4 linked regions of the Homo sapiens genome follow. The protein of the gene in region 1 purifies or fractionates together with the protein of each later gene. This does not show direct contact. Each region holds a gene or a part of one and is shown in the gene's direction. Other genes may lie near its edges. The genes, in order: BRD1, DRG1, SULF2 and ZC3H15.

Evidence for each region.
Region 2: the proteins of BRD1 (region 1) and DRG1 purify together in Homo sapiens (affinity purification with mass spectrometry; 2 studies listed by BioGRID and IntAct, with this or other methods). This does not show direct contact.
Region 3: the proteins of BRD1 (region 1) and SULF2 purify together in Homo sapiens (affinity purification with mass spectrometry; 2 studies listed by BioGRID and IntAct, with this or other methods). This does not show direct contact.
Region 4: the proteins of BRD1 (region 1) and ZC3H15 purify together in Homo sapiens (affinity purification with mass spectrometry; 2 studies listed by BioGRID and IntAct, with this or other methods). This does not show direct contact.

Annotation. Positions count from the first base shown.
Region 1 is NC_000022.11:49,796,350-49,804,351, reverse strand, and holds part of BRD1 (bromodomain-containing protein 1), read left to right. Parts: coding exon 1-148; intron 149-5,232; coding exon 5,233-5,364; intron 5,365-5,665; coding exon 5,666-5,794; intron 5,795-6,234; coding exon 6,235-6,547; intron 6,548-8,002. UniProt on the Homo sapiens protein: Scaffold subunit of various histone acetyltransferase (HAT) complexes, such as the MOZ/MORF and HBO1 complexes, that acts as a regulator of hematopoiesis.
Region 2 is NC_000022.11:31,415,999-31,424,000, forward strand, and holds part of DRG1 (developmentally-regulated GTP-binding protein 1), read left to right. Parts: intron 1-4,257; coding exon 4,258-4,427; intron 4,428-7,281; coding exon 7,282-7,412; intron 7,413-8,002. UniProt on the Homo sapiens protein: Catalyzes the conversion of GTP to GDP through hydrolysis of the gamma-phosphate bond in GTP. Appears to have an intrinsic GTPase activity that is stimulated by ZC3H15/DFRP1 binding likely by increasing the affinity for the potassium ions.
Region 3 is NC_000020.11:47,774,862-47,782,863, reverse strand, and holds part of SULF2 (extracellular sulfatase Sulf-2 isoform a precursor), read left to right. Parts: intron 1-3,209; exon of another isoform or gene 3,210-8,002. UniProt on the Homo sapiens protein: Exhibits arylsulfatase activity and highly specific endoglucosamine-6-sulfatase activity. It can remove sulfate from the C-6 position of glucosamine within specific subregions of intact heparin.
Region 4 is NC_000002.12:186,482,402-186,489,259, forward strand, and holds the start of ZC3H15 (zinc finger CCCH domain-containing protein 15), read left to right. Parts: upstream 1-3,858; 5' UTR 3,859-3,981; coding exon 3,982-4,056; intron 4,057-6,858. UniProt on the Homo sapiens protein: Protects DRG1 from proteolytic degradation. Stimulates DRG1 GTPase activity likely by increasing the affinity for the potassium ions.

The DNA of each region.
Region 1 (8,002 bases):
GATTGCGAATCAGGTGGCCATTCAGCGGAAGAAGCAGTTTGTGGAGCGAGCCCACAGCTACTGGCTGCTCAAGCGGCTGTCCAGGAACGGGGCCCCCCTGCTGCGGCGGCTGCAGTCCAGCCTGCAGTCTCAGCGAAGCTCACAGCAGGTACGTGGCTCGTGGCCCCCACAGCCTTTCTGCGTCTCTCACCCCCACCCTCCAGGGAGAGGGCACCTGGTTCAGGCTGGTCACGGTGCTGCCCCCTGGGCTCAGGCTCCCCGTTGGGAAGCCTCCGTCTCGTCCAGCCCTGGAGCTGTAGGAGGAGTCGGGTGCACTGGGCTCTGGATCTGCGACTCGGGGGGTGATTCTCATCCATGCCTGTCACTGGGTGTTTCTTCCGTTTTGAGTTGCGCTCCCCCGCCCTGCCCTGCCCGCACACACGCTGATGGGCAGTGGCCAGCTCTGGGGACTGGGGATGCTCAGGGATGTGTTATGCTGTGGCTGCATGAGCGTCCGGGCTGGGGACAGCAGGAGTGGGACCCGGTGAGCACACCCGGGCCATGTGGGTGGGGGTCTGTGTGCTGGGCCTGGAGGGTGGGTTTTGGAAATATGTGAGGAGTGGTTTATTTCGAGGGCCTTGCTCTGAAGGTTGGTTTAGCTGGGACTGTGGTGGGGTGGGGAGGGCTCGAGAGAGCTGAGAGAGTGGGAGGGAAGGAGCAGGACTTTTCCTTTTTAAAAGAACAAACCCAAACTCTTACATTTTGATAGTAGGTTTGAGTTTATAGACTCATCTGATACTGTGAAACAGTTCTGAAAAAATGGGTTTACAGAGTGAAGTAGCTTCTGTGAGATGCACAAAAGTAATTGAAAACACAAGCAGCTCTGCACACGGCCCAGGACCTGCGGCCAGCGCCCTCTGCCCACGCTGCCTAGTGAGGAGCCGCTGGTCTTTTGGAAGAGCTGTCTGCTGCTGGCGTCGCGTGGCCTGAGTGCCTCTTGGAATTTCCTCATGGTGCTTTTCACTGCCATCCTGGGCACGAAGCGAAACCATCCTGCTCTGCTGTGAGGTGGTGACTTGCTCACAGGAAGCTTGAGTCTACAGGGTTCACGGTTGGGTCCCCGTGCGGTGGTGCGGTGGCCGGTGCTGTCTCTGCCTCGCAGACTCTGCCTCTGCAGCGTGAGCCCTGTTCAGTCACCTGCCGTGGCTGCCTTGTGCTCCAGGGAACTACAGAGTCTGGTGCTCTGGTCTGGCAGGTGGTGGTTTGTGGGTCTGATTTGGTGTGGTGGGGTCCAAAGTTTTCTGACGGCCTTGGTGCGTCTTGGCTGTGGAATATTCCAGGTCTCCCGTGCCGTCCACCTGGGTTGCCCCACTGTGTGTCTGTCCATGGAACTTGGGGCTCCCCGGGCAGGTCTGTGAGCCAGCCCCTCTCCAAGTGAGATCCTCACGTGTCCACAGAGTTGAGGCTTCAGTGAATGTCTTTTGGCTGTTGAATGAGTTAACCGCATCTTCCGTTCCATGATGTGACTTGGCTTTCCATCTCTCCTCTGTCCTCACCTCGTAGCCTCCAGGGCTCCTGGAAAGGACAGCACGGTTTGGGGGGCTCTTAAGAGGCCAGAGTCAGGAAGTGGCTGAGCGGCGGGAAGCTCTGGGGGCTGGAGGCATTGGTCTCGGCCCCCGCGATGTTGGGGAAAGGAAGAGAGTGGAGGCATTGGTCTCGGCCCCCGCGATGTTGGGGAAAGGAAGAGAGTGGAGGCATTGGTCTCGGCCCCCGCGATGTTGGGGAAAGGAAGAGAGTGGAGGCATTGGTCTCGGCCCCCGCGATGTTGGGGAAAGGAAGAGAGTGGAGGCATTGGTCTCGGCCCCTGCGATGTTGGGGAATGGAAGAGAGTGGAGGCATTGGTCTCGGCCCCCGCGATGTTGGGGAAAGGAAGAGAGTGGAGGCATTGGTCTCGGCCCCCGCGATGTTGGGGAAAGGAAGAGAGTGGAGGCATTGGTCTCGGCCCCCGCGATGTTGGGGAAAGGAAGAGAGTGGAGGCATTGGTCTCGGCCCCCGCGATGTTGGGGAATGGAAGAGAGTGGAGGCATTGGTCTCGGCCCCCGCGATGTTGGGGAAAGGAAGAGAGTGGAGGCATTGGTCTCGGCCCCCGCGATGTTGGGGAAAGGAAGAGAGTGGAGGCATTGGTCTCGGCCCCCGCGATGTTGGGGAAAGGAAGAGAGTGGAGGCATTGGTCTCCGCCCCTGCGATGTTGGGGAATGGAAGAGAGGCTTTTTTGGGAGGAAGTTGAGGGTTCAGATCTTGGGTCTTATCTCGGGGCTGGACAGAACTCCAGGTAAGTCACAGAGGAGCTGTTGAAGGGCAGATTCCATGGAAAGTGGGCATGGATGTGGCCAAACGGGACGTCCAGCGGTGGGAATCATCATTTCTACTCTCATAAGCTGGGACACGAGGGCCAGAATCCCTGCAGTAGCAGGACACGTGGGCCAGTGGGCAGGGGCCACGGGGACCCAGGCAGCTGGGGGTGGCCTGGGGCGTGGTGGAGCCAGGCAAGGGAAGGGGGAGGGTTGCAAAGAAGAGGTGACCCGCTGGAACCTGCCAGCTGGGCCCCCTCTGCTTCATCGCTGCCTGTTAGGCCTCACGTCCTGTTGTGTGCAGAATACGTTTGTAAGGAGAGAACATCCCCACAGCCCGGCCAGAGCAGCTCTTCTGGCAGAGGGGGCAGCTTCTCGAAGTCACCTGGGAAGGAGCAGAAGGAGCTGCCTGGACTTGAGCCGCAGCAGAGCAGTCGGCGTGGAGAGCCTGGAAACCTGCCTCTGTGTGAACGGGCTATTGGGAGAGACTGTGCTTCTGCCTTCTCCTGGCCAGGGATGGCCACGGCTTGGTGTGGTTTCATGGTTTTGAAGCTTTGGAAGTACCTGATGCATTTGATTCCTCTGTGTCTCTGTGTACCTGCCCCAGCCTGACCCTGTGGTGGGGGCAGGTGGATGAACTGGACGGGGTCTCTTGAGAGGCCAGCAGGCGCCGAGGGTGCTGCAGCGATGGCGGGTCTGTGCTGGCTGCGCATATAGGCCCTGGTTTTTGTTCTGGTGTGTGTGGCCGTTGAAGGCCGCAGGGAGAACGGGGGCGGCAGCTTAGCTTTATAAAGGGTGAGCAGCGATTTGTGTGTATGCTGGTGGCGTCCCACTGTCTCCTGCTCCCGTGGCCCACCCTTCCTGTCCTGGGAGCGCATCCTGCAGCTTTCCCAGTGTCTGTCCTGTGGCATGCTGGGCGCTGCTGCCCACATCGTCCTTGCTGTGCTGCGTGTGTGGCCTCTGCCAGTCCCACGCACCTGCTGGCGGCATTGGGCCCAGTGGCAGGAGCTGGGTGCTGTTGCCAGGAGGCCTGGGGTCGGCCACTCTGTAACACTGTGGGCCCTCACCCCAGGAGCTGGCCTGTCCTCCCAGCAGAGGCGATTTTAACCTGACCGTCGCCTAGCCCTGCCCTGTGTCTCCCCCATGTGTCTGGAATGGACGCGGAGGCGCTCAGCTTCTTCCCGGCAGTGGGGATGCCTGAGTGCTTCTTCACTTCTGTCCTTTCTCGTGGAGCCTCCCACTGTTGATTTTTACATGGGAAATATCGAGCCCTTGAGAGCCGAGTAAGGAACCTTGATCCTTCTGAGTGGATGAGGCTGCATGTGTCATGGGACCTTGGGCCCAGGTGCTGTCAACGGGGCCCCTGCCACTGCCGATGGCGTTTGTTAAACCAGGTTGGGGAGCAGACTAGTAAGTTTGCTTAGCAGCCAGTGCGTGATAAAGGGCTTCCTGGTGATGAGGAGATTTCTTCCGCTTCGTAACAGATTCCCAGGCCAAATGTCCTTTTGGCCGAGGTTTTCAGAAGTGTCGATTGCAAGCTGAGGGACAGGCAATACTCAGATGCTCCGGGGAGCTTGGTTTTTGGAGCCCACATTTTCCTGCCTTTGCTTGAGTTGATGTGGATCTTGTTACTCTTAGCCCCGATTTCCTGCCTGAGGGTGTTCAGCAGCATTGAGGAAAACCCAGAGATCCTCACTTCAGGGGACATCAGCGCAGCAACGCTCTGCCTCGCCATGGAGAGGCCTGGCCTTGGGGGTGGGGGTGCGGGGCTCGGCCTCCCTCCTTGAGCCTCCTTTTCTGAGCAGTTTGGAGTCCGGGGTCCTTGCATCTTGTAGTCCAGCAGTCTTTGCCTTCACACCCTCGGTCCTTTGAAAAGCTATGACAGTACCCTGAGGTGGGCAGGTGGGAACCCGGGGACAGAGGCGTTGGGGGAGAGGAGGGTCTCAGGGCTGTGAAGCATGTGCCAGAAACTGATGGCCACGGCTGTCCTGAGGCTGGCAGGGCGCGCGTGTCCTGCAGCTGTGGAGGATGACAGGTGTTGGGGGCCCACTCAGGCCAACTCCCTCGTTGACTTCCTCTCCCCTTTGAGGTAGGGTCAGGGTGCCCCGGCACTGTGACGAGCAGGCCTCATGCGGCCAGGCCTGGGGGACATGGTGAGGACAGGGCTGAGGGCAGACCCAGGTGGCCTACTCTCCTGCGACCATCTGTGTCATGGCCTTTGCAGGGCTCTGATTTTCTTCTGATCACCCTGGTGTGGATGTTGGCTGGGTTGAGGCTGGCGGCCTGTGCTGTCTGGCGCACTCTTCTGTCCACTGAGAAGGGAGCAGGTGCTATCAATGGAAATGGGACCCTGGCTGTGGGGAAACGTGTGTCGGGATGGAGGCGCTGTGCAGGGCAGGGCAGCAGGTCGGCTGTGTGCCAGGCCCCCGTCATGCTCTGTCCAAGCCAGGATGGGCCCAGCATGTGGTTTTCTGTGCACCTGGTTTCTTTCCAGCCGCTCCCTCCATTCCCAGCTGTCCTGGAGGTGGGTCCTCAAGGGTCCCCCATTCTGTCCTGGCCCCGCCTTTGTGGGCCTTTCTGGTTCTGTGAAGGCCCCCCCCGCCGCCAGCTTGCGGAGGCCTCTGTCCTCTCTGGAGGGTGGAACCTGTGCACCGGGGCCAGCCCCCTGCTCACCTTGGCCTGGCGGTCCCCTCTGTCCCCTCCATCCCCTCTGTCTCCTCTGTCCCCTCTGTCCCGGTGCTGTCCTGGGGCTCTCTAGTGAGGGTGGTCTGTTGTCCTCCCCAGGATGGGCCTGCAGGACCCCTGACGTGGATGCCTCTTGGGGTCTCACCTGCATGGTATCTGAGGCCTTTTGCAGAAGGAGCCTCTGGGTTTGACTGACGGAAGTGTTCACTGTTCTCAGAGAGAAAATGATGAGGAGATGAAGGCTGCCAAAGAGAAGCTGAAGTACTGGCAGCGGCTGCGGCACGACCTGGAGCGCGCTCGCCTGCTGATCGAGCTGCTGCGCAAGCGGGAGAAGCTCAAGCGTGAGCAGGTGGGGCTGGGCCTGTCCCGCGTGGAGTGCACCACTGGCCACGGGGCGTGGGTGGGACGCTGGCAGCTCCTGCAGAGGGTGGGCTGCACCCGGTGGGTCCTGGCCCACAGCAGTGCCTTGCTCAGCCCAGGCTGGGTGCCTGGCTGCCATGGGTTGCAGAGCCCTAAGTGGAGGCTGCGTTGTCCTATGCCTGGACGGAAGCACAGGAGCCTGTGGGGGCTGCTTGTGGCTGTGGGGCGCGTGGTGGGGCTGAGACGCATGTGCGGCTCCCTAAAGCTGAGGCTCTGCTGGGCCCCCCCAGGTGAAGGTGGAGCAGGTCGCCATGGAGCTGCGGCTGACCCCGCTGACGGTGCTGCTGCGCTCAGTGCTGGACCAGCTGCAAGACAAGGACCCCGCCAGGATATTTGCGCAGCCCGTGAGTCTGAAGGAGGTGGGTGTTTGCGGCGCTCGTCTGTCCTGCCGCATGTGTGACTGTGGATTTGTGCTGCCGTTTGACCGGGAAACGTGTGATTGGCTAGAGTACATCCCTTGTGTTCTTAATTCTCGTTTTTATTTAACGTATTTGTTTTTAAATTATAAAAGTGATACATTTCATTGTAAAATACTGAAAGTGCAGTGGGCAAGAGGCCCTGTGCAGACAGTACCCTGGGCTGTGGCAGCATCCGCCCGGCACCCTCCAGCGTGCTTTAGCTGAAGGAGCTGGGGTCGGGAAGGTCCCTGCAGTACTTGGGTCTTATGTCTGTACCGTCTGCGTGTCTGTGTGTGGCTCTCAGATAGGATGGGCTTGTGGGTTATATGGAATAATAAATATAGAGTCAACTAATATCCTGTTTTAGTTTGTAAATGATTCTTTTTCCTCCCTAAAATTAGGTACCAGATTATTTGGATCACATTAAACATCCCATGGACTTTGCCACAATGAGGAAACGGTTAGAAGCTCAAGGGTATAAAAACCTCCATGAGTTTGAGGAGGATTTTGATCTCATTATAGATAACTGCATGAAGTACAATGCCAGGGACACCGTGTTCTATAGAGCCGCGGTGAGGCTGCGCGATCAGGGAGGTGTTGTTCTGAGGCAGGCCCGGCGCGAGGTGGACAGCATCGGCTTGGAAGAGGCCTCGGGGATGCACCTGCCTGAGCGGCCTGCTGCGGCACCGCGGCGGCCTTTCTCCTGGGAAGACGGTAAGAACTGGCGCCGTGTCCGGAGGAGGTGGAAGACGCTCTTTCTAGCAGACTCTGTCCTGCTCTGTGTTGCCAGCTCCCTATCAGCATGGTCCGGGAGCCACTAGCATGCAACCGCATACATCATTTACATTTTCTAGTAGCCTCACTGAAAAATGGAAAAGAAGCAGGTGGAATTTACTTTAATAATATGTCTTATTTTACTCAGTGTATGGAAGAGTTGATTTCAACATGGGATCGGTAAACGTTACTGAGGATATATAAGCTTTTCACCTTCTTTGCCATCTGATGTGTATTTTACGCTCAGCACCTGTCACTTCAGACTGGCTGCGTTTTGGGTGCCCACCAAGAGGACTGTGTGGCTGTGGCTCCCTATGGGGTGGCCGGTCTCGACGATGCAGACCCAGAAAGCAGCTTAGTTGGGGGTTTTCATCCAGAGTGGGCCTCGGCTAACTTCTGAGGGTGGCGTGAAGCCGGAGGATCTCTGGCTTTGCCTCCAGCCCTTTAACTTCGTGGTTTGCGCATGTTGTAGAAAGGGCTCTGGGAGTGTGTCCACGGCCCACCTGGACTCCAGCCTGGGCTTGTGCTTCTTGGTTGCCCAGGCACGTGTTGCAGCCATGTGTAGTCACCTGCACCCTTCTCTAGACTGGTCCTCGGAAACCGGGGCTGTCCCCTGCACCCTGCTTGTTAGTCGCACCTCTGGGATTGTCTGTCGAAGGGTGTGTCCTGCCCACATGGGTTGTCAAAGCACATAGAGCTCCAGCACCTCAGCTCCAGCTCTGAGCCACAAACTGAGCAGAAATCACGGTGTGTTTGGCTTATTTGTCTAAAGGTCCCATATCCCTGATTTCTTGGCCTACCCTTTCTCTTGATGAATCACTGACCCGTGCTAGGTCGCTTCTTCTGGGATGAGGCCTGGCCCTCTTCCTCTCTTCCACGTTCCCGCCATCGCGGGGTCCACGTTCCCGCCATCGTGGGGTCCGCTTCCCGCCATCATGGGATTCAACCAAGCTGGGCCATCGTTGCTTCGCCCTCTGTTCCCCTCATGGCAGCAGTGCTGGGCTCCCTGCTTCCCGTGGGGTCCCGCAGCACTCGGCACCTGTGAGGATTGGAGGATGGGCTGTACTCTTTTAAAGACTGGGGATAGGGCCAGGTTCTGTGGCTCATGCCTGTAATCCCAGCACTTTGGGATACCGAGGCGGGTGGATCACTTGAGGTCGGGAGATTGAGACCGGCCTGGCCAACATGCAGAAACCCCGTTTCTACTGCAAACACAAAAAATTAGCCGGGCATGGTGGCGCATGCCTGTAATCCCAGCTATTTCGGAGGCTGAGGCAGGAGAATCGCTTGAACCTGGGAGGTGGAGGCTGCAGTGAGCGGAGATTGTGCCATTGCACTGAAGCCTGGGTGACAGAGTGAGACCCTATCTCCAAAAAAAAAAAGAAAAAAGAGAGA
Region 2 (8,002 bases), about 18 Mb from region 1:
ACTACAGCTAGTATGATTGTGTATAAGAAGTCAGATCAGTCCAGGCACGATGGCTCATGACTGTAATCCCAGCACAGAGGCAGGCAGATCACTTGAGGCCAGGAGTTCCAGACTATCCTGGCTAACACGGCAAAACCCGATCTCTACTAAAAATACAAAAATTAGCTACTTGGGAGGCTGAGATGGGAGGATCACTTGAACCTGGGAGGCGGAGGTTGTAGTCAGGTGAGATGACACCACTGCATTCCAGCCTGCGTGACAGAGTGAGACTCTGTCTCAAGAAAGCAAACAAAAAAAAGAAGTCAGATCATGTCATTTGTTGGCTATACCTTCTGATGTTTTCCCATATTATTTGGGATGAGACCCAAAGTCTTAACATAGCTTACAAGCTACGGTAAATGACCTGGCCCCTGGCTGCCTCTCTGACCTCCTTTTCTATCACTTCAGTCACTGGGCTTAAGATATCACTGGCCGTCCGGGTGTGGTGGCTCACAGTCTGTAATTCCAGCACTTTGGGAGGCCAAGGTGGGTGGATCACCTGAGGTCAGGAGTTCAAGACCAGCCTGGCCAACGTGGTGAAACCCCATCTCTACTAAAAATACAAAAATTAGCCAGGCATGGTGGCAGGTACCTGTAATTCCATAGTCTGTAATTCCAGCACTTTGGGAGGCTGAAGCAGGTGCATCACAAGATGAAGAGATCGAGACCATCCTGGCCAACATGGTGAAACCGCGTGTCTATTAAAAATATAAAAATTAGCTGGGCATGGTGGCGTGTGCCTATAGTCCCAGCTACTCAGAAGGCTGAGGCAGGAGAATCGCTTGAATCCAGGCGGCAGAGGTTGTAGTGAGCGGAAATTGCACCATTGCACTCCACCCTGGTGACAGCAAGATTCTGTCTCAAAAAAAAAAAAAAAAATAGCTGGATGTGGTGGTATGCTTCTGTAGTCCCAGCTGTTCGGGAGGCTGAGGTAGGAGGTTCTCTTGAGCCCAGGAGGTCAATCTGCAGTGAGCCATGATCATGCCACTGCACTGCAGCCTGGGCAGCACACAGACACCCTGTCTCAAAAAAAAAAATAATAATAATAATAAGGCCGGGCATGGTGGCTCACACCTGTAATTCCAGCACTTTGGGAGGCCGAGGCGGGTGGATCACCAGGTCAGGAGATCGAGACCAACCTGGCCAAGGTGGTGAAACCCCGTCTCTGCTAAAAATACAAAAATTAGCTGGGTGTGGTGGTGCGCGCCTGTAGTCCCAAGCTGCTCGGGAGGCTGAGGCAGGAGAATCGCTTAAACCTGGGAGGCAGAGGTTGCAGTGAGCCGAGATTGCACCACTGCACTCCAGCCTGGCGACAGAGCAAGACTCTGTGTCAAAAAATAATAATAATAAAAATAAAATCATGGCTGCTTGGTGGCTCATGCCTGTAATTGCAGCACTCTGGGAGGCTGAGGGGGGTGGATCACTTGAGATCAGGAGTTTGAGACCAGTCTGGCTATCATGGTGAAACCCTGTCTGTACTAAAAATACAAAAAGTAGCTGGGCATGGTGATGCATGCCTGTAGTCCCAGCTACTTGGGAGGCTGAGGCAGGAGAATAGCTTGAACCCAGGAGGCGGAGGTTGCAGTGAGCCGAGATCACGCCATTGCACTCCAGCCTGCATGACAGAGCAAGACTCCATCTCAAAAAAATAAAATAAATAAAATAAAATCAGGCTGGGCATGGTGGTACATGCATGTAATCCCAGCACTTTAGGAGGCTGAGGCGAGCGGATCACCTGAGGTTGAAAGTTTGAGACCAGCCTGACTAACATGGAGAAACCCTGTCTCTATTAAAAATGCAAAATTAGCTAGGAGTGGTGGTCCATGCCTGTAATCCCAGCTACTTGGGAGGCTGAGTCAGGAGAATTGCTTGAACCCAGGAGGCAGAGGTTGTGAGCTGAGGTCGCACCAATGCACTCCAGCCTGGGCAACAAGAGTGAAACTCCATCTCAAAAAAAAAAAAAAAGTCTACCACTGAGGCTGGGCATGGTGGCTCACGCCTGTAATCCCAACACTTTGGGAGGCCGAGGTGGGCAGATCATGAGGTCAGGAGTTCAAGACCAGCCTGAACAACATGGTGAAATGCTGTCTCTACTGCATCTCAAAAAAAGAATGAGGGGTCAGGGTCAGGTGCAATGGCTCATACCTGTAATCCCAGCACTTTGGGAGGCTGAGGCAGGAGGATCACTTGAGGCCAGGAGTTCGAGACCAACCTGGGCAACATTGCAAGACCCTGTCTCTACAAAAATAAAAATTAAAAAAAAGAAAAAAATAGCCATGTGACATGGCACACATGTGTAGTCCCGGATATTCAAGGAGACTGAGGCAGGATGATCAGTTGAGCCCAGGAGGTGGAGGTTATAATGAGCTATGATCATGCGACTGCACTCCAGCCTGAGTGACAAAGCGAGACCCTGTCTCTTCAAAAAAGAGAATTTTAAAAAATGAGGAACTAGAAAGTTGATGGAAGCAGAATATTTTTTTTTTTCTGAGATGGCGCTCTGTTGCCCAGGCTGGCTGGAGTGCAGTGGCATGATCTCGGCTCACTGCAACCTCTGCCTCCCTGGTTCAAGTGATTCTCGTGCCTCAGCCTCCTGAGTAGCTGGGATTACAGGTGTCCACTACCATGGCCAGCTAATTATTTATTTATTTATTTATTTTTGTAGATGGATTCTCGCTCTGTTGCCCAGGCTGGAGTGCAGTGGCGCAATCTCAGCTCACTGCAATCTCTGCCTCCCGGGTTTAAGAGATTCTCCTGCCTCAGCCTCCCAAGTAGCTGGGACTACAGGCATGTGCCACCACATCCGGCTAATTTTTTGAATTTTTAGTAGAGATGGGGTTTTACCATGTTGGCCGGGATGGTCTCAATCAGCTCACCTTGTGATCCTCCTGCCTCAGCGTCCCGAACTGCTGGGATTACAGGCGTGAGCCACTGCGCCGGCCAGTTTTTCTATTTTTAGCAGAGACAGGGTTTCACCATGTTGACCAGGCTGGTCTCAAGCTCCTGACCTCAGGTGATCTTCTCGCTTCAGCCTCCCAAAGTGCTGGGATTATAGGTATGAGCTCCCGTGCCCAGCTGGAAGCAGGATTTTTGACAAATGAATTTTAATATAGAAAAAGGCCAGATACTGTGACTCATGCCTGCAGTCTCGGCAGTTTGGGAGACCAAGGCAGGAGGATTGCTTGAGGCCAGGAGTTAAAGGCTACAGTGAGCTATGATCATGCCACTGCACTCCAGTCTAGGCAATAGAGCGAGACTCTGTCTCTGTCAATATAAATATATATTAATAAAAATAAGATATGCAGGCACAAAAGACTACTTTTTTTTTTTTTTATACAGATTGAATCTTACTTTGTTGCACAGGCTGGTCTCAAACTCCTGGCTCCAAGCAATCCTTCTGCCTCAACCTCCCAAAGTGCTAGGATTACAGGCATGAGCCACTGTGCTAGGCCAAAATAATATATTTTATATGATTCCATTTATATGAAATTCTAAAACGTGCAAACTATGGTGGCAGAAAGCAGATCAGTGGTTGGCTGGCAATAGTGGGGAAGATTGAAAGGAGGCACAAAGGAATGCTGTAGGTGATGGAAATATTCCATGTCTTGATTGGTTTGGTGGTTACACAGGTATATACATTTGTTATTGAACTGTGTGCTTTAACATGGATACAATTAAAAAAAAATTGTACCTCAATAAATTTGGTTAAAAATTTGCTAACCAAGGGTGGGCGCAGTGGCTCATGCCTGTAATCCTAGCACTTTGGGAGGCTGAGGTGGGCGGATTGCCTGAGCTCAGGAGTTCGAGACCAGCCCAGGCAACATGGTGAGGAAACCTCGTCTCTACTAAAATACAATTAGCCAGGCATGGTGGCATGTGCCTGTAGTCCCAGCTACTGGGGTGGCTGAGGGAGGAGAATCGCTTGAACCCGGGAGGCAGAGGTTGCAGTAAGCCAAGATTGTGCCACTGCACTCCAGCCTGGGCAACAGAAAATGTGTCAACTCTTGGGCAAATAGGTGCTGATTTCATGGCATACAAAGCAAATTGACTTCTGGTATAAATCTTCTGTAGCTATAAGAACTTCACGTATGCATGTATGTATTACAGAAAAATCCTTTGACACTTAAATGTAGGGGGAAAAAACACCTCTACTTGAGTATTTGGGTTAGTTAAGGCTTTATTGAACTTTCTTGCGTATGTTTTTTTCTTACTCTTCAGTGGCCCGAACCTGTAACTTGATCTTGATTGTTCTGGATGTCCTGAAACCTTTGGGACATAAGAAGATAATTGAAAATGAGCTGGAAGGCTTTGGCATTCGCTTGAACAGCAAACCCCCCAACATTGGCTTTAAGAAGAAGGACAAGGGAGGCATTAATCTCACAGCCACTGTAAGTGGGGAATATGACATGGGGCAGGCTGCTGCAGGAATTGGAATGGGGAGTGGATTGGGGTGCATGGACCCTGACATTGGAAAATTTCCTGGCTTTTCCCTGCACTAATTGAGATAACACAATGACTTTATAATGACTGACAAGAAAAACTTCAAGATTAGGATAGGAGCCAGTCTCAGACTTACCTTTGCTACTTATTTCCTCTTTTGGATTATCTATTGGGAATGATATGGGCGTGTGGACCAATATTATGCTTGCATAAAGTAGATGGCCGCCAATATCTTCTGTTTTCATTCATTTAACACAAATTTATAGAGTGCCTACCACGGGCCAAGCATTATTTTAGGCTCTGGGCAGGAATGGAAGAGGGAATAGTGAAACCCCCTGCTTTTATATTCTAATTGGATAGAATAGAAAACAATGTTAATGAGTAAAATATAATGTATTCGTCAATGATAAATATAAGAACACAAAGTAGGGAAAGGAGATAAGAGTGTTGGTGTGAGGGTTGCAGTTTTAAGAACGTTGGTCAGGGAAGTCTTTACTGAGGTGACATGAAGGTGTGAACCAAGTGGATATCTTGAAGAAGAGCATTTGCTTCATGCCTCAACCTCCTGAGTAGCTGGGATTACAGGTGCCTGCCATCGCACCCAGCTAACTTTTGTATTTTTAGTAGAGACGGGGTTTCACCATGTTGGCCAGGCTGGTCGGTTTCATTCTGTTGCTTAGGCTGGAGTACAGTGGCACAATCATAGTTCACTGTTAGCTCAAAACTCTTGGGCTCAAGTGACCCTCCTGCCTCAGCCTTCTAAGTAGCTAGGGCTAAGTCACATGCCTCCAGGCTTGGCTAATTTTTTTTTTTTTTTTTTTTTTTGGTAGAAACGGAGATTTGCCATGTTGCCCAGGCTGGTCTTGAACTTTTGGCCTCAAGCTGTCTCCTGCTTCGGTCTCCCAAAGTGTTGGGATTACAGGTATGAGCCACCATACCCAGCCATGTTTTTTATTTCCTGAGCTAAAAAAAAAATGAACTCTTATTACTAAAATGGTAGGACTTTTGGTAGAATAGATTTGGAGGGAAGGAGAAGATCAGGATGTTAAATTTTAGATGCCAGTGAGACATCCAGGTATTTCAGTCAAGAGGGCATGTGGGGTAGGCTGGGCATGGTGGCTCATGCCTGTACATCTATAATCCCAGCACTTTGGGAGGTTGAGGCAGGAGGATCACTTGAGCCCAGGAGTTCAAGACCAGCTTGGGCAACAAAGTGAGACCCCATCTCTATAAAAATAATAAAGAAGGCATGAGGAATTATCTAGGCTGGATATATAAATTTGGTGATTATCAACTTTAATGTCATGGGCCTAACTGAGATCACCAAGGATGTGAGTATAGATAGAAAAGAAAAGAGAGCTGGGTGCAGTGGCTCACACCTGTAATCCCAGTACTTTGGGAGTCCGAGGTGGGCGGATCACAAGGTCAAGAGATGGAGACCATCCTGGCCAACATGGTGAAACCCTGTATCTACTAAAAACACAAAAATTAGCCGGGCATGGTGGCACGCACTTGTAATCTCAGCTACTCGGGAGGCTGAGGCAGGAGAATCGAACCCAAGAGGTGGAGGTTGCAGTGAGCCGAGATGACGCCACTGCACTCCAGCCTGGTGACAGAGCGGGACTCCGTCTCAAAAAAAAAAAGAAAGAAAGAAAGAAAAGAAAAGAGAATCGGCCAGGCACGGTGGCTTACGCCTGTAATCCCAACACTTTGGGAGGCCGAAGTGGGCAGATTACATGAGGTCAGGAGTTGGAGGCCAGCCTGACCAACATGGCAAAACCCTGTCTGTACTAAAAATACAAAAATTAGCCAGGCGTGGTGGCACGTGCCTGTGATCCTGGTACTTCGGAGGCTGAGGCAGGAGAATTGCTTGAACCCAGGAGGCGGAGGTTGCAGTGAGCTGAGATCGCGCCACTGCACTCCAGCCTGGGCAACAAGAGCAAAACTCCGTCTCAAAAGAAAAAAAAGAAAGAAAAGAGACTCAGAGAAATAAGACTTCTTAGACCAAGAGAGAGAAGGAAAACTGAAAGAGTTTGAAATACTGGAAGCCAAGTAAAGTGTTTCACATAGGAGTGACCAATTCTGTCAAATGCTGCTTCTCTGTCAGAATTGAGGACTGAGAGTTTCCTACTAAATTTAACACTTCAGAGCCCAGATGATTTGACTGGCATAGGTTTCAGCTGTCCTGCCCAAAACATCTTTCCCATTATCCCGTCTTAATATTCAAATTTGAACATTTAAGATTATTTCTGTGTTAGTTTCAGTGCTGCCATAATACGGTACCACAGATGGGTGGCTTAAATAACAGAAATTTATTTTTCATAATTCTAGAGGCTAGAAGTCTGAGATGAAGTTGATGGCAGGGTTGATTTCTTCTGAGGCTTCTGTCCTTGGCTTACAGATGGGACTTCATATGGTGTTTGCTCTGTGTGTCTGTGTCCTAATCTCCTTTTCTTATTAGGACCACCAGTATTGGATTATGGCCCCACCCTAATGACCTTATTCTAATTTGATTACCGCTTTAAAGACCCTATCTCCAAATACATCACATTCTGAGATACTGAGGTTAAGACTTCATGTGAATTATTTGGTGGGGGAAGGAGGAACACAGTTCAGCGTGTAACACCTTCCTTGGAGTTTGGACATTTATTTCCTACTAAAAGTCAGTGACACTCATCCCGGATGTATTTAGTAATGAGTTTGCATCTTAGCTAGAATTTTCCAGGTACATGGATATTGGTACACTTGACAAGTATTTTTTTTAAATTTTGTGCTGACTAGTCATCTGCTATTCCCTTTCAGTGCCCCCAGAGTGAGCTGGATGCTGAAACTGTGAAGAGCATTCTGGCTGAATACAAGATTCATAATGCCGATGTGACTCTACGTAGTGATGCTACAGCTGATGACCTCATTGATGTGGTGGAAGGAAACAGGTACTGACTGAGTGTGCAGTCTGTGCCTGACTGAATTGGAAGCCTTGTGATGGAAACAGTATTGGATCTTGAATCTGGCAGAAGTTTATCTTAATTCCAGTTGTCCTACTGTCTTTTTTTTTTTTTTTTTTTTTGAGATGGAGTCTCACTCTGTTGCCCAGGCTAGAGTGCAGTGGCGTGATCTCAGCTCACTGCAAGCTCCACCTCCCAGGTTCAAGAGATTCTTCTGCCTCAGCCTCCCGAGTAGCTAGGATTACAGGTGCGCACCACCACGCCCAGCTAATTTTTGTATTTTTAGTAGAGATGGGGTTTCATCATGTTGGCCAGGCTGGTCTTGAACTCCTGACCTCAAGTGATCCGTCTGCCTCGGCCTCCCAAAATGTTGGGATTACAGGCATGAGCCACTGTGTCCAGCCTGTGCTACTATCTTAAATGATAGTGGGCTTTGGTTTCTTTTTTTTTTTTTTTTTTGAGATAGAGTTTCGCTCTTGTTAGCCAGGCTGGAGTGCAGTGGCGCAGTCTCGGCTCACTGCAACCTCCACTTCCAGGTTCAAGCGATTCTCCTCCCTCAGCCTTCCTGAGTAGCTGGG
Region 3 (8,002 bases), on another chromosome or scaffold:
TAAAAGGCCCTTAACTTTCCATAAACCCCCACTGTTCCGACAGAGAGTCCGGGTTTGTATTTGAGGTTTTTTGCCCCAAGGAAAACATGTGTCTGCCTGGTGCTTTTTCTTCTGCTTATGAGCAGACACACTGTCCCCTCCCCCAGTCAAAATGCAAAGGGAAACATCAAATGCAGCTGATGGAAAAGCCAGGTGAACCATGGTGAAGATTTCAGCCCACTCAGAGCACAGTGGCCAGAGAGCAAAAGCTCTCCTAGAGGTGAGACCTTCCTGTGGTTGGTGATGGAGTCTCGATGGCCTGGCCCTGGGGGTGGTGCCAGGGTGCTCTGTGTCAGGCCTGGGCGGATGTGGAAGATGGGGGCCTCTCTCAATGCTGATCTGCAGGTGAGGGGGCCCTCCCTGAAACCTGCTTTCTCTGGGCCTCCTTGGAATGGGCCTTGGTGGAGATCTACAGACAGCCCTGGCCCAGCCGGATTGAAGGCACTGTCTAATTGGGAGGGCATTAAGATCGTTATAATTAATTGGCATCCCGATAAATGGCATGGTTGCCTAATTGGGGTGGTTGCTAGGGAACGAGGCCTCACTTGGAGCCTAAAGGGGAAGAAGCGCTGGGCTGGCCACAGTTGGGTGTCAGGGTACAGATCCAGCAGTGAATGGACCGGAAGGGAGAGCAGTCCATCCGTATCTGCTGGTGTTTACTGAGCAGCTGCTGTGTGCAAGTTGCAAATGGAGTATCAGTTAGGGGTACTTGCCTAGAAGAACTGTAAAGTAATCAGGTTCCTTTCTCTTGCAAGCAACGGAAAAAGAGAAGAAAAAAACTCAAGCCAGCTTAAGGAGAAAAGAAGTGGACTTACTGGTTTTCATAACCAAAAGTCTTAAGGTGACTAACTCTAGCTTCAGACACAGCTGGACCCACAGCTCAGATTTTGTAATGAGAATCCATTCCTATCCACCGCTCCTCTGCCTTCCATGAGGCTGATGTCTCTCCAGCTCTGGGGCGGGCAGTCCCTGGCAGCTGTGGGCACCGTGGCTAGGAGAGCCAGACTGCCTGGCTCCCTGCCCAGCAGTGGGATCTGGGGCATGCTACTTAACCTTTCTGTGCCTTGATGTTCACATCCAACAAATGATGATGATCATAGCACCTGTCTCCTGCTTGTGGTAAGCATGAAATGAGATGATCAATGTCAAGTGCTTAGCAGGGCGTCTGACCCAGGTGAGCCTTCAGTAGGCATTGACTGTTACCATAACTTAGGTGTCAGGACAGATGTCATGGAGCAGAGGGGTCTCATCCCCTCTGGTTTAAGCCCAAAAGGAAAGAACAAGCCTCTGATCTGGCAATGCACACCTGAGCCCCATGGTTCCCTCTGATTGGACTGTTTTTTGTCCAAACCAGTCACTGGCTAAGGAAATGAGTTGCCAACAATTGGCTTAAGCCAGGCTCACAGGCCTCTCCCTGGAGCTGGATGGAGGCTGACTGCTGAGACCCCAAAGCCTGGAATAAAACAGCACGGGGAGTCCCCAGTGAAAGGGAAGCCCGGTTGCTGGAGAGGCAGATGGCCAGTGCCTGCGATGATGGGCCACTAATGTGAGCAATGCTGGCCAGATGGACCCATCTTCATTTTGGCCAAGGTGGAGACTGGGGAAACACGCTGCCTGGGCAATGCCTCTCCCTTCCACCAGGGCCAGGAGGCATCAAAGGCCTGACTTTTCTGCCTTACTGTCTGAAGGATGGGGCCTGGCCTTGATCCTGTGCTTTCGGGGGGCCAGGGGCAGTGTTTGTCTAACCTCCCACCATGAGAATCATCTGGCTGTATTTGTTTAAAAAGGCAAAGACCAGATCCTGTTGAATCAAACTTCTAGGGAGGGTCCTGGATGCTGGGGGGCATGACCAATATGTCATGTGTATATTCTATATCAGCAGGAGGGTTTGGCGAAGAGAGCTCTGGAGCGTGGGCCTCTTTGTCTTCCTGCCTAATGCAGGGGCTGTCAGAAGGCGGGGAAAATGCTCTAGGCCTGGCGTGCTGGCTCATGCCTATAATCCCAGCACTTTGAGAGGCCGAGGTGGGAGGATCCCTTGAGGTCAGGAGTTTGAGACCAGCCTGGCCAACATGGCAAAACCCTCTCTCTACTAAAAATACAAAAATTAGCCAGGTGTGATGGTGCTTGCCTGTAATTCCAGCTACACAGGAGGCTGAGGCACCAGAATCGCTTGAACCCAGGAGTCGGAGGTTGCAGTGAGCTGAGATCGCACTACTGCACTCCAGCCTGGGCAACAAAGTGAGACTCAGTCTCAAAAAAAAATTTAAAAGAAAAATGACTGCATGATGTGATGGGGTGGGAGGCAACTTTAGGCAGGCTGTCAGGGAGGCCTCTGTGAGGATGTGACCTTTGAACTGTGACCTAGATTTTAGGAAGGAGTCCGCCTTGGAAAGATCTGGGGGAAGAGCATGCCAGGTAGAAGGAACAGCTAGTGCAAAGGCCCAGAGGCGGTGGGAGGGGCCTGTCCAAGACACCTGCCCCAAACACAAATAGAAGTCAAGTGGGGTAGGCCAGGCGTGGTGGCTCACGCCTGAAATCTCAGCACTTTGGGAGGCTGAGGCAGTTAGATCACTGGAGGTCAGGAGTTCAAGACCAGCCTGACCAACACGGTGAAACCTCATCTCTGCTAAAAATACAAACATTAGCCAGGTGTGGTGGCACGTGCCTGTAGTCCCAGCTATTTGGGAGGCTGAGACAGGAGAATCACTTGAACCCGGGAGGCAGGGGTTGCTGTGAGCCGGGATCACACTTCTGCATTCCAGCCTGGGCAACAGAGTCAGACTCTGTCTCAAAAAAAAAAAAAAAAAAAGTCAACTAGGGTAGAGGGTCAGGAGTAAGTGGGGGAGGGCACGTCAGAGATGAGAAATACAGGCCATGCTAAGAAATTTTAGACTTTATTTTAAATAAAATGGATAACTGTCTGGACGCGGTGGCTTATGCCTGTAATCGCAACACTTTGGGAGGCCAAGGCGGGTGGATCACCTGAGGTCAGGAGTTCAAGACTAGCCTGGCCAACATGGTGAAACCCCATCTCTACTAAAAATACAAAAATTAGCCAGGCACGGTGGCGCACACCTGTAATCCCAGTTACTCGGGAGGCTGCAGCAGGAGAATCGTTTGAACCCAGGAGGTGGAGGTTGCAGTGAGCTGAGATTGTGCCATTGCACTCTAGCCTGAGTGACAGAGCAAGACTCCATCTCAAAAATAAATTAAAAAATAAAATGGAGAACCATTGGAGGGTTTTAAGTCAGAGAATGATATGATTTGTGTTTCAAGAAGATCCTGCTGGCTCCTGTGAGAGGCGTGCTGTGCAGATGGAAGTGGTATCACCGGGACTGTTAGGCAACAGAGAGGGCCCGAGAGTGGCTTGGACCGTGGTGGTATCAATGGAGATGGAGTGAAATGGGGATTGGAGATGTATTTTGGAGGTAGGGCCCACAGGACTTCCTAGTGGATTGGATTACAGAGTGAGGGAAAGGGCTTTGATTCTCAACCGAGGGTGATTTTGACACCCAGAAAACATTTTAACACTATCCGGAGACAGTATAGGTTGTCCCAACTGGGGAAGGGTTGCTACTGGCATCTAGAGGGTAGAGGCCAGGGATGCTGCTTAACCTGCAATGTACGGGATGACCCCACAGTGAAAAATGATTCAGCCCAAATATTCATGATGTATCCTGCCAAGGAGTCAAAGGTGACTAGGCAGCCTGGTGCGTGGTGATTGCTAAATAGGGAAGATAGGAGAGAAGGTTTTGGGGAGGAGGAGTGATCTGGAATTCCGACGTGGAAATGTTGGGTTTGAGATGAACCCCACCTGGATGTCTGAAAGCTCAGTGGGTGGTGAACGTGGATGTCTGCAGCCGGTCGGGGCTGGCAACCTAAGTTTGGGAGTTATCGGCATATTGATGTTATTTTAAGCTGTGGGACTGGACACAATTATCCAGAGAGAATGTGTTTTGTTTTCTAGTGTGGTTTTCTCCCCCCAGCCTCCCCCTAGTGCCTGTCATGAATCTATTTGATGAATATTTTTAGCATATCCCACATGCTCACCTCTCTGACATTTCCAAGAAGTTCCTGAAGGCTCGGGCTGAGCCTCCCCTTCTTCATCGCCTGGTTTCTCAGTGATTAACAGACAGAGCTAAATATTCATTGCTCTGCCACAGATGCCCTTGGGAAATTGCTTAAGGTCATGTGGGATCTCGGGCCTTGTAGGCAGCACGATGCCTTCTGGGTGGAACAGCTGTTGGCATGGCCTTCAGAGCTTCTCCTCCAGCCCAGGCCAGGGCTTCTTGGAATTCTCTGTAACCAGAATGTTTTGAATTCCCCACGTTCTCTTAATGTGATTCCAAAGCACACGTTGCCCAGTGGCCCTGGCCTCTGCCATGGAGCGTCATCTTACAGAAGGCCTGGCCCACTGCTCTGCACACCTGGGCCCAGCTTGAATCTTAGATAAATTCTATCCCAAACTCAGAGTTGTTATGGCCAGGTCTTGTGTGTGTAAGTTGGTGGACAGGGCCATCCCCAGGGACCACAAATAGTACCAAAGATGTGTTTGGCCATGTGGAAGCCAGATGTGTTAGGGGAAGAATGTGGCCAATAGCTTTTCTTATTGGCTCATGGTCAGGACCCCAGCGGGTGACTTGACCCACCCCAGTAGCCAGAGAAGAGGAGCTTTTTTGTTTTTGAGACAGGGTCTTGCACTGTCATCCAGGCTGGAGTGCAGTGGCACAGTCTCAGTTCACTACCACCTCAACCTCCCAAGCTCAAGTGATTCTCCCACCTCAGCCTCCCAAGTAGGTGGGACTATAGGCACAGGCCACCATACCCAGCTAATTTTTTTTTTTTTTTTTTGGTAGAGATGAGATCTTGCTATGTTGCCCAAGCTGGTCTCAAACTCCTGGGCTCAAGTGACCCTCCAAAAGTGCTGGGATTACAGGCGTGAGCCACCCTGCCTGGCCTGGAACTTTTTGAAAAGAGATTGAAAAAACTGTTAGCTCACAGAAGCCTTGGAGATGTTCCTGCTTGGTGAAAATCAGACCATCTGAAAGCCACATTTCTGGTCTGCTCTCGAGACAGATACTATCCATAGACTTCTGATTGCAGGCCACTTATCTGGATATTTCAGAGACCAGGAAAGCCTACTATAATTCTTAGTAGCTTAGAGTCCTGATCATTTTAATGTGAATTGAAATGGTTTCATTATGAGGAATCACATTTCTGACTGACAGTGGCTTATGCAATAGAAACATTTAATTCTCACATAACACCAAGTCCAAAGCAGGGGAGTCCAGGCGCTGGTTTTTCAGTACAACAGTGTCATCCAAGGTCCCAGGATCTTTCAAGCCTCTTCTTCTGTCCTCATCATGTCTTTGGCCTTGTTGCCTCATAGTCTCAATATGGCTGCCACAGCTCCAGACGTCGCATCACCCTACAAAGTGGGACTATAGGACAGGACTCCTTGCTGTCTCTCTTTTAATCAGAGAGTAAAATCCTTGCCAGAACACTCCCACCCTAGCAGACTTTGCTTTCTGTTTCATTGGTCCGGAGTTGGGTTTTGCACTCACCTCTAAATCAAACACTGGGAAAGGACCTGGCTCCTTCCTATGCTTCGGATCTCAGCTGAAATGTCACCTCCCTAGAATGCTGGAAGGACAACCTGTTTTATGTTTTATAACACTTATCACTCTCTGGAATTAGCCTGGTTTGCTTATTTGTCCTTTGTCTTCTCTCTCCTCACTAAAAAGCAAGCTCTGTGCTTGTAGGGACATTGTCTGTCTTGTTCATCGCTGTATCCCCAGCACTGAGAACCAGGGTGGCACTCTTTGGATACTCAGTAAATTTTTTTTTGAATGAAGGAAGCAAGAAAAGAAAGAGGCTTGGAGAGCTACAGGCACATCTGGCTAGCATGTTTGCTCGAAGGTGACTGCTCAGGGCAAGGATGTCAAAACCTGTTAGTCATTTGCAAAAAGCTAAGCAGGTGGCTGGGAGGATTGGTTTCATACACACTCACTTGCTCCCCAGTGCCAGAGCTGGGGTTTTGTGCTAGCATTGCTTGCAGAGGAAGGATCGTCCCCTTTATGCCACGGCAGGGACCTCACGGCCTTGCAGAAGGGCTGGTGGAACCCTCCACTTCTGATGACTCTGGGGCCAAGCTAGTCTTCCAGGTCAGTGGTGTGACATTCTAATGAGGGCTCTTGGGTTAAATATTTCTGCATGTGCCCTTGAAAAGACAACTCCCTTCCCTAAATTGTCCCTTCCTGAAAGAACAGCGGTCACAGCCCAGGAGAGCAGCCTCTTTAACCTCCACTCCCCAACCTACCCTCCTGAAAGCTCACATTTACCGAGCACTTTGTACAGGCTAGTGGTGGTTTAAGTGCGCGCTCCTGTGAATGTGGAATAACTCAGCGATGTGGGGATCTTCCAACCCCGTTTTACAAAGGAGGAAAGAGACACAACGAAGTCTCTCCTTGCTCTGCCATGCTGGTAGAATAGGACATCACAGGCCACCTAACCAGGGGCTCTGTTCAGCTCGCAGAAATGTTTTGTTTGAACCTTCTAAAAAGCTGTCAGATTTGTAACAACTACGAGATTTCACATTTTAAAAATCTGGATTTTCAGCTTCTCCTGAAAAATGGGGAGATGTGGTCCCCACCATCCCCTATAGCCTGACATTGTGAACCAATTCATTTGGCTTTTCATTGCACTTTCCCTTCTGTTTTTCTCATTGTGGAGCAATATTTCTCTGTTCCATCTCTACCAAAAGTGGCCAGATGAGAGCTGGAGAGGAAGTGGGGTGTGGAGTTTTCTTATGCGTCCACTTCACCCGTTTACATTATCTGCCTGGCCCACGTAGGCATTTGAGTTTGTCTCCCGTTGTGACACTTTGTACCCAATGGCTACACTTCCAGGGACATTGCAAGTGTCCCTGGACACTTACATTGTGCATTGCAAGTGTGTAGTAATAATAATGTCTAATATCTATTGATTACTTTTTGCCCAGCATTTCATCATCACAGCAAGCCTTTGAAGCAGGGACTAATATCATCTTCACTTTATCAGTAAGGAAACTGAGGCACTGTGTGTGATGCCCTCACTAGAACAGGAGGTCCTGAAGCTTGTTCATCTTTGTACCATCTGTGCTAGGCTTACTGGCTGTTTGAATGAATGACTAAAGGAATGAATGAATGATGTTCTCCTCCAAGTGTTCATTAGCCGAAGAGGCTGAAAGTCTTAACCTCATAGTCATTTGTGACATTTCTGTTGGGGGAATGGGCTCTGATCAGTGTCACTGAGGATTCTTGGGTTGTGTTTCTGCTGTATAACAAACCACTCCAAACTCAGTGGTTTAAGGTAACAACATTTTATTTTGGACGATTCTGTGGTTTGACCAGGTGGTTCTTCAGCTTCATGTGATATCAGCTGGCAGGTCTAAAACAACCCCATTCAAATGGCTGGCAGCTCTTGCTGGTCACCAGATGGGAGCTCAGTTATTCTCCATGTGGGCTCTGCCCTATGGCTACTTGGGCTTCCTCGCAGTATGGCAGGTTCAGGGTAGCCTGACTTCTAAGAGTGCAAAAATGAAAGCTGCCACGGTCTCTTAAGGCTTAACCGCAAAACCGGCACAGCATCACTTCTGCCACCTTCTCTTGGTCAAAACAGGTCCCAAAGCCAGCCCGGTTTCATGAGGTGGGGCCCACACAAGGGTTTGAATACCAGGCAGTGTGGCTTTTTGGAGTCCACCAAAGTACCCATTCATCACAGACTGCAAGTAGCAGAGCCCAACACTTACTACCTCAAGCTGGAACAGGATTTACTGGGGGGCTCAGGAAAGGACAGGTCAGGAACTGAGGAAATTCTGGGGACCTTGGCGCAGGAGTTACTAGCAGCCTCCTGAAGGAGAGTTTCCATCCCAATGCGACAAATGCACCCCTGCTTTTTCTTTCTGCCCTTGACACTTTATTTG
Region 4 (6,858 bases), on another chromosome or scaffold:
AATGCAAATTAAAACCTGTATATATGTATATGGGAGGTCTTCAAAGAAGTTATGAAATAGGGTGACACTATCAAATTCATACATTTGAAAATTTACTTTTGGAGTAATGCATTGTGAAGAAATTAGATCAAGAGAAACAGTTGCAATAGTCCAAGTAAAAATGTGGCCCTGAAATAGGATAGTAAAGTAGGAAGGAAATAATTTGAAAGAGGTTCCTTAAGATATAGAATCACTATGAATTGACTTGACTGGATTTGGAGGTTGAAAAAAGAATCAAAGATGACTCACCAAAGTTTCTAGTTATGATACCTAGATGGAAGGTAGATAGGTTTTTTTTTGGGAGGGGGGAGGTATACACATAAGACTATGAAAAGTTCGAAGGCACATAAGAGTAGAGAGGGAATATGAAGGTGGGGAATAGGAAAAGCTGGCCTAAAATGAGGAGTAAGAACTGAAATAACAGAAGATAAAAAGCAGATGTTATAGGCTGAGGAAGATGTGGAATCCCTTACACTCCCTTTAGAAAGACATAAGAAGCCATTAAAAAACTATTACTAGGGAAATGACATGGTTGATTTAAATCATTGGAAATGATTTAAGTGTCAACGAGGCAAAAAATATTTGGAAATCGTACATCTTGGTTTCTTGACAAATGCCATAATAACTATTATCATAATGGTACCAAGAAATATTTCAAATAGAAACAGAGAATTCACCCACTTAAGTCACCTACTTTAAGAAAATTTTACATCAGTGTAGGCTGGAGTGAAAGTTTACAGTATTGAAATTCAAACTGACAAGGTAAAAGACATTTTATATGCTTTACTGAAACACTAGCAAATCTTTTGTAATATCTTAATTCAGAGGGAAAAAAGTCTTAAAGGAGACTGACTATATGTCAGAATTTTGAAGCATTCACTATTTAAATCAAAATACTTCCTAATATGTACTGCCTTAACCCATAAAACAGATCAGCAATTTATATGGCCAAATGAGTCCTATCTTTATGACAAAAATTTACTTAGATAAACTAGTAGTCTTGTCTCTGCCCACCACCCCATAGCACAGTTTGGTCTATTATCAATCAGAGTCTGTCTTAGTTTACTAGGGCTGCAATAACAAAGTACCACAGACTGGGTGGCTTAAAAAACAGAAATTTATTTTCTCATAGTTTTGGGTGCTAGTAGGCTGAGATCAAGGTGTCAGCATGTTTGGTTTCTTCCAAGGCTTCTCTCTTGGCTTGCAGATGGCCACCTTCTAGCTATGTCTTCAAATATGTTTATGGAAATATTGTTCACAGAATCTATAGGAAGCCTGGAAAATCAGGCTTGGGAAATAAAAGAAGCAAGAAATAATAGCAAAGAATGAAGTAAGGACTTGTATGGATCTTGCCACACTGGCCTGCCGCCACTGGACTGGTAATACCATACATGCACTCTAATGCCCTGAAAAATTCCTACACTTTGAGTCTTTGTCTTGTTTTCTTGAGATTAAAAGCCTGAGACATAGGGCTTCCTTCCTATACAGAAGGACATTAGAATGCTGGATAGCAAACAATAATTTCTATTCAGTACAAAATCTACTGCCTTAATCTATTACATCTGATACATTCCAATAAATGTAAAGTTATCCAAATGGCTATATCCAAGGCAGTAAATTCACAGCCTGTCTACCAAATCGAAGCAGTCAGGTTTGACAGTTTTTCTTTTAGTTCTTTTACGGTGGGCATTTACCTCAGGTTTAACACTGTTCCCACAACTTCCTAATGTATTTCACTCATCCTGACGCTCAAGTTTATAGCCCTGCTTTCTTGGGTATATGAATTGTAACCCTTGGACTATGCCTTCTAAGCACTGTTTTGTGAAAGTTTCGTTTGAATTGTAAGGTCAATAAAAATAGCAGTAGAAGACATAAAAGTCCCAGCCCTGCTACCATTTGCTATTTGAGACCAGGAAAAACCATGTACCTTATTTCAAAAAGTAGTGAATTCAATGAGTTGGACTTCCTTATTTCTAAAATGTATGAAGAAATAGTGTACGAGGGAGAGTGCTATAAGAGCATGTACTATATTCAGAAATGTGTATTTTCCACTTGAGGCAAGAAAGGATCTTTGTTCTCTACCTGGGCTACACTTCAGAGGAAAAAACCGAAAGCAAAGGTCAGGAGACAGAAGAAGTTATGAACCATGAAACTGGAGCCATTATCATAACATTATGAGACTCTAGATTCTTTGTAACTTCCCCATATTTGTTACTTATAATTCATTTGCCTCATAATAATAATCAGTAAAATTACTCAAAATCAAAGGCCCAAAGGGCATCTTTGGGGCACTAAAAGTAGGAAGTTAAGACAACTACATTCCATATGCAAACAAAGTCTCAAAGGAGACGATCCCCAAATAATCAAATGGATAATAATACTGAGTAAAGAGGGGGCTGGCTGCATCCCTCCATCCTCTGACAAGAACTATGACAATTACAAAAAATAAAGATGAAAATATGTAAAAGGGGGGGAGCCCATTAACCTGCCAATATGAGCCCAAATGAAAAAAAGTGTGTCAACATACACCTGCCATTCTCGACACAATTCTTTTTAGTAGCTATCACATTTCTTCTACACACACACATACACACACAAAACATACTTGGGGTTCCTTGACATTATCTTACGTAGAAAATTACTAAGCAAATAATCAATTTGACTAAGTAGGGGGGCTTATCGTTTTCTCCCTATTCAAATTAATGAAAAAGATAAAAAAACTTTTATCTATAAAGATGATTCTTGGTTCCACAATGCTTCTTAACAGAAATAGTTTAAACAATAATCATTTTAAAAAATAACAGCTAAGCATTGTACATTTTTAAAAAATAGTATTTTCGTTTGTACAAATATCAATGGGTCCCATTCATCATTCAAGTACCTTTTCAAACAGGATCTAAGTTTGTAATGTTAGGTAATAGGCATATAGGCTGAAGCCGGACTGCCAAGATTACAATTGCTGGCTCTGTCCTTAATATAACTTTGGGCATCTTTCTTCCTTTCTCTGCTTCATCTATAAAACGAAAACAGTAACAACTCCCACCTAAGTGTCGTTGTGATAACTAAATGAAATAGTGTGTGTAATGTGCCAAGGAATTTCTGGAGCTACCAAGCACTTAAACTAAGTTCTAACTAAGTTTGGTTACTTTCACGTTATAAAGGAATTTTTAGGAATCACCTAGGCACTCTCCTAAAGTCTCAAAATAACTTAATACAGTACTTCTAAGGAGTTCAAGTGCCTCCTTATCTGGGACGCCATCTCAGATGCTCTTCAAATGAAAGGGACCCTGCAAATGAAAGTTAACTTTTTCCATTTTTTAAATAATCCTTCGCAGGAATCTGAAGCACGCGACACTCACGGGCCATTCAGCTCCGCCTCTCCAGGGAACAAGAAGGTTAACTGAGTAACGTGGTCACGGAGCAACCCCGAGTCGCTGCGGCTGCTTAGTAGTCACTCAGGATGGGGATGGTACAGGGGACCATTAACTGGCCCGGCAGGAAAAGTTTCCCGGTGAGGTGACGATGGACAAGAGTCGCCCCATCGTAAGCGAAAGTGGACTGAGAGGAAGCACAAACGCATGGACTCAACCAGCTCGCCCAGATTCACCCTCAGGCCTTTTGCCATCTGAAAAGGGCCTATCGGATGCGCGACATCACGAGTGACGCGTAGTCATTTTCCCACGTCCCGTCCCTGCCCCCTCCTAGTGGGACGCAGTGGGCGCGCACGCGCAGCTCCGCTTCCGGGAGCCGCTCCTCGCTACCCACTATGCTCTGCGACATCGACCTGTCGCAAAGGCCGCGTTTGCGGGGCCAATGAGCGACTCGCTTTCCGTGCGGTGCGGCGAGTGAGGCCCCGGTCTTCCTCCTCGTCCTGCCGCAGGGCCAGAACCCCTGACGGTATTCAGCTGCGCGTAAGTCTGGCCGGTGCCATCTGTCTCCGCAATGCCCCCCAAGAAACAGGCTCAGGCCGGGGGCAGCAAAAAGGCGGAGCAAAAAAAGAAGGAGAAGATTATCGAAGTGAGTACCCACCCCTCCCCCACTCACGCCGCGAGCCCTCCGGAAAGCCACTTCCCCGCTCCGGGCTTCCCTGGGAGCCGGCTCGCTTCCTCGGGCCACGTGTTCCTCCCTTAGGCCTGTGTGGCCCACTGCCCCTTCTCCAGCCCCTGATGACGCTAGCTCTCTCATTACTATAGTGACGCTGCTGGCGCCCCCGCACCTGGGCTTTGCCTCTCCGCCCACACGCCCGTGTTCACCCACCCATGCACCCGGGTGCGAAATGACCCCTCGGGACTGGCACAGGGTTTTATCCTTCGCTAGTCCTCTCAGAATTGAGGAGATTTTCCAAGGTTATGTGTGAAGAAATACGCTGAACGGTCTCGGGCCAGCGTCTTTCTGGAAGACCGACTCATGACGAGTCTTTGTGTTCGTTATTTCTTTACCCGTCACCCAGGGATGGTACTGTTAGTTCTTTTGAACCAACAAATTACGACTTGGTGGCTTTTTCGATCCACCTCTGAAATGTTTAAAGTCCCATAAAGAATGGAAGGACTTTCCGTCACAACCCAGGGTCTTGAACGCAGAGCTTGGTACTTACATTCTGAAGTGGATTAAATAGGATAACGCCTTAAAAGAGATTAGGTTTCAGTGTCACTAATTGTGTGAAGTCCCGTAACCCAGTTTGAGATATATGTGTGTGTGTGCGCGTGTATATATGTATACATCTATGTGTGTGTATATGTGTATATATGTGTGTGTATATATATTCGTTTAACACATTGAGCCTGTAGCCCTTTAATGGCCAAGGAACGCTATTGACGTTCTTACATGTTGTGCACTTGTTTTCCAACAACTGAATTGAGTTTCCTTAAAAGATGAACCATATTTGACATTACGTAAACATACCATACAGACCCCAACGAGGTATTTCTTCCCTCGATTTCTGCTATTAATCCTCCTCATAATTAAATAGGACCTCTTGTACTTTGGATATAATTAGAAAAAGCCATGACCATTTTACCGCATAAGGTGTAAAGTCTGCTCATTGGATTTAAGAAAATGCTTAAGAATTTTGCTATACTTGGCCAGGTTCCAACTTTGGAGGAGAACTGGTATTCTTATTGCCAATTTGTACAGTTTAAAACTGTCATGAAGTACTATAGCCAGACACTTAAAAACAAAATATTACCTTCACATCTGTGTTTTCTATTACCTTATTTGAACAATCTGGATTCGTGGCACTTAGGTAAATTTCAGGGGTTGCTGATCGGATGGCATTCACTTTTATGAAAACCAAGGACATTTTAGGGATGTCGTTTTCCTCGAGATTGGACCCTGATACGAAGTAAAACTCCCATTGAAATTAAATGTTATGTAATAATTTAGACAATTTAAATTATACTTCATGCATTGTAGAGCTTTCTCTATATCTAATTGTTTTATTTTTAATTAGTAGGACTAGTATTCTTATTTTAAGGAATTATGTGTGAAAGTTGTTTATAGTATCCATCAACTTTTAAAATGATGCATATGTTATGATTCTAGTCATCTTGTGACGAAATTATTTTTTAGCTAAAGAGAAAGCAATTTTAGTTTCAATAATGAAGGTATCTCCAAAGAAAAATGCAAAATAAGACAACTGCACTTTTTAACTAAAAATATTAACAACAACAAAGTGGTGAAATTAAGCCCGATTTTGTGTTTTCTACATTTAATATATATTATTTTTTTAATTTATTTTTTGTTGAGGTATAACTTATGTAAAATAAAATGTACAGGTTCTAGATGTATAGTTCTATGTGTTTTGAGGAATTTATTCACCCAGGTAGCTGCCACCCTAATTAAGACTTGAAACATTTCTATCACCCCACTAAATTTGTTTTGTGCCTCTTTCTATTTAATTCTTTCCACACGTGCAGCCACTAATTTTTTTGACAGGATAGATTAGTTTTTACCACTCTAGGAACTCATATAAATTATACAGTAGGTAGCCTTTGTGTCCTTCTTCTTGCTTTCACACCATGCAGTGTTTTTGAGATCCATGCATGTTGTGTATATTTCTAGTATGTTCCTTATTGCTGAAAAGTATTCTCTTGTATGGGAACCATTACAATATGTCACCTTTTGTGTTTAGTGTCTCTCTCTACTTGGAGGAACCAAAAGACGTTATAATTGACGCTTGAAAAACAAACTTAGGATTCCAAAATGGGTTAGAGGCGGTGTTTGTTAAAATCTCGGCAGCCAGAATGGATTATTTTGTGGCTAATGGAGTCATCTGTAGGGACCTTAACCTTGGGGCATACGCTGAGTTGGCATGAGAGTGTCCAATCATCTGTATACATTAGAGCTACAGGATAGGCATCATTAGGGGATCTGGGTGGTGTGTCTATTTCTCTGGGAAGGACTGGTCTTGACTACACCCTCAGTTAATTGCAGTTGTTGAGCTTCTTGCTTTTGCTGAATATGCTTGCATTTTGCTTTCTTGTGTTTTGTGCTATCATTCTTTAACCTAACCTGCAGTACCGTTGGATGTATGTCTTTGAGGCCATTTCTTTCTGAAGACTGAGGTTTGGGTATGGGTTCTTAGTGAACAAGATGTTCAAATATTCCATTTGTTTCTCAGTGATCATAGTTTGTTTCCTTTGAAATGTGTCCACTTGCCTTTAAGAAGGTCCTCCTAGCCTGACATCTTGTAATCTAGATGTTCTTTTATGTTCTGGTCCAGGGACCTGATGAGCTTTTTCAAAAAATACTGCAACAAAGTTTGTCAGACTCATGTGCAACATTGATATTTGCTACTACTGGAGAGGTACAACAATATTT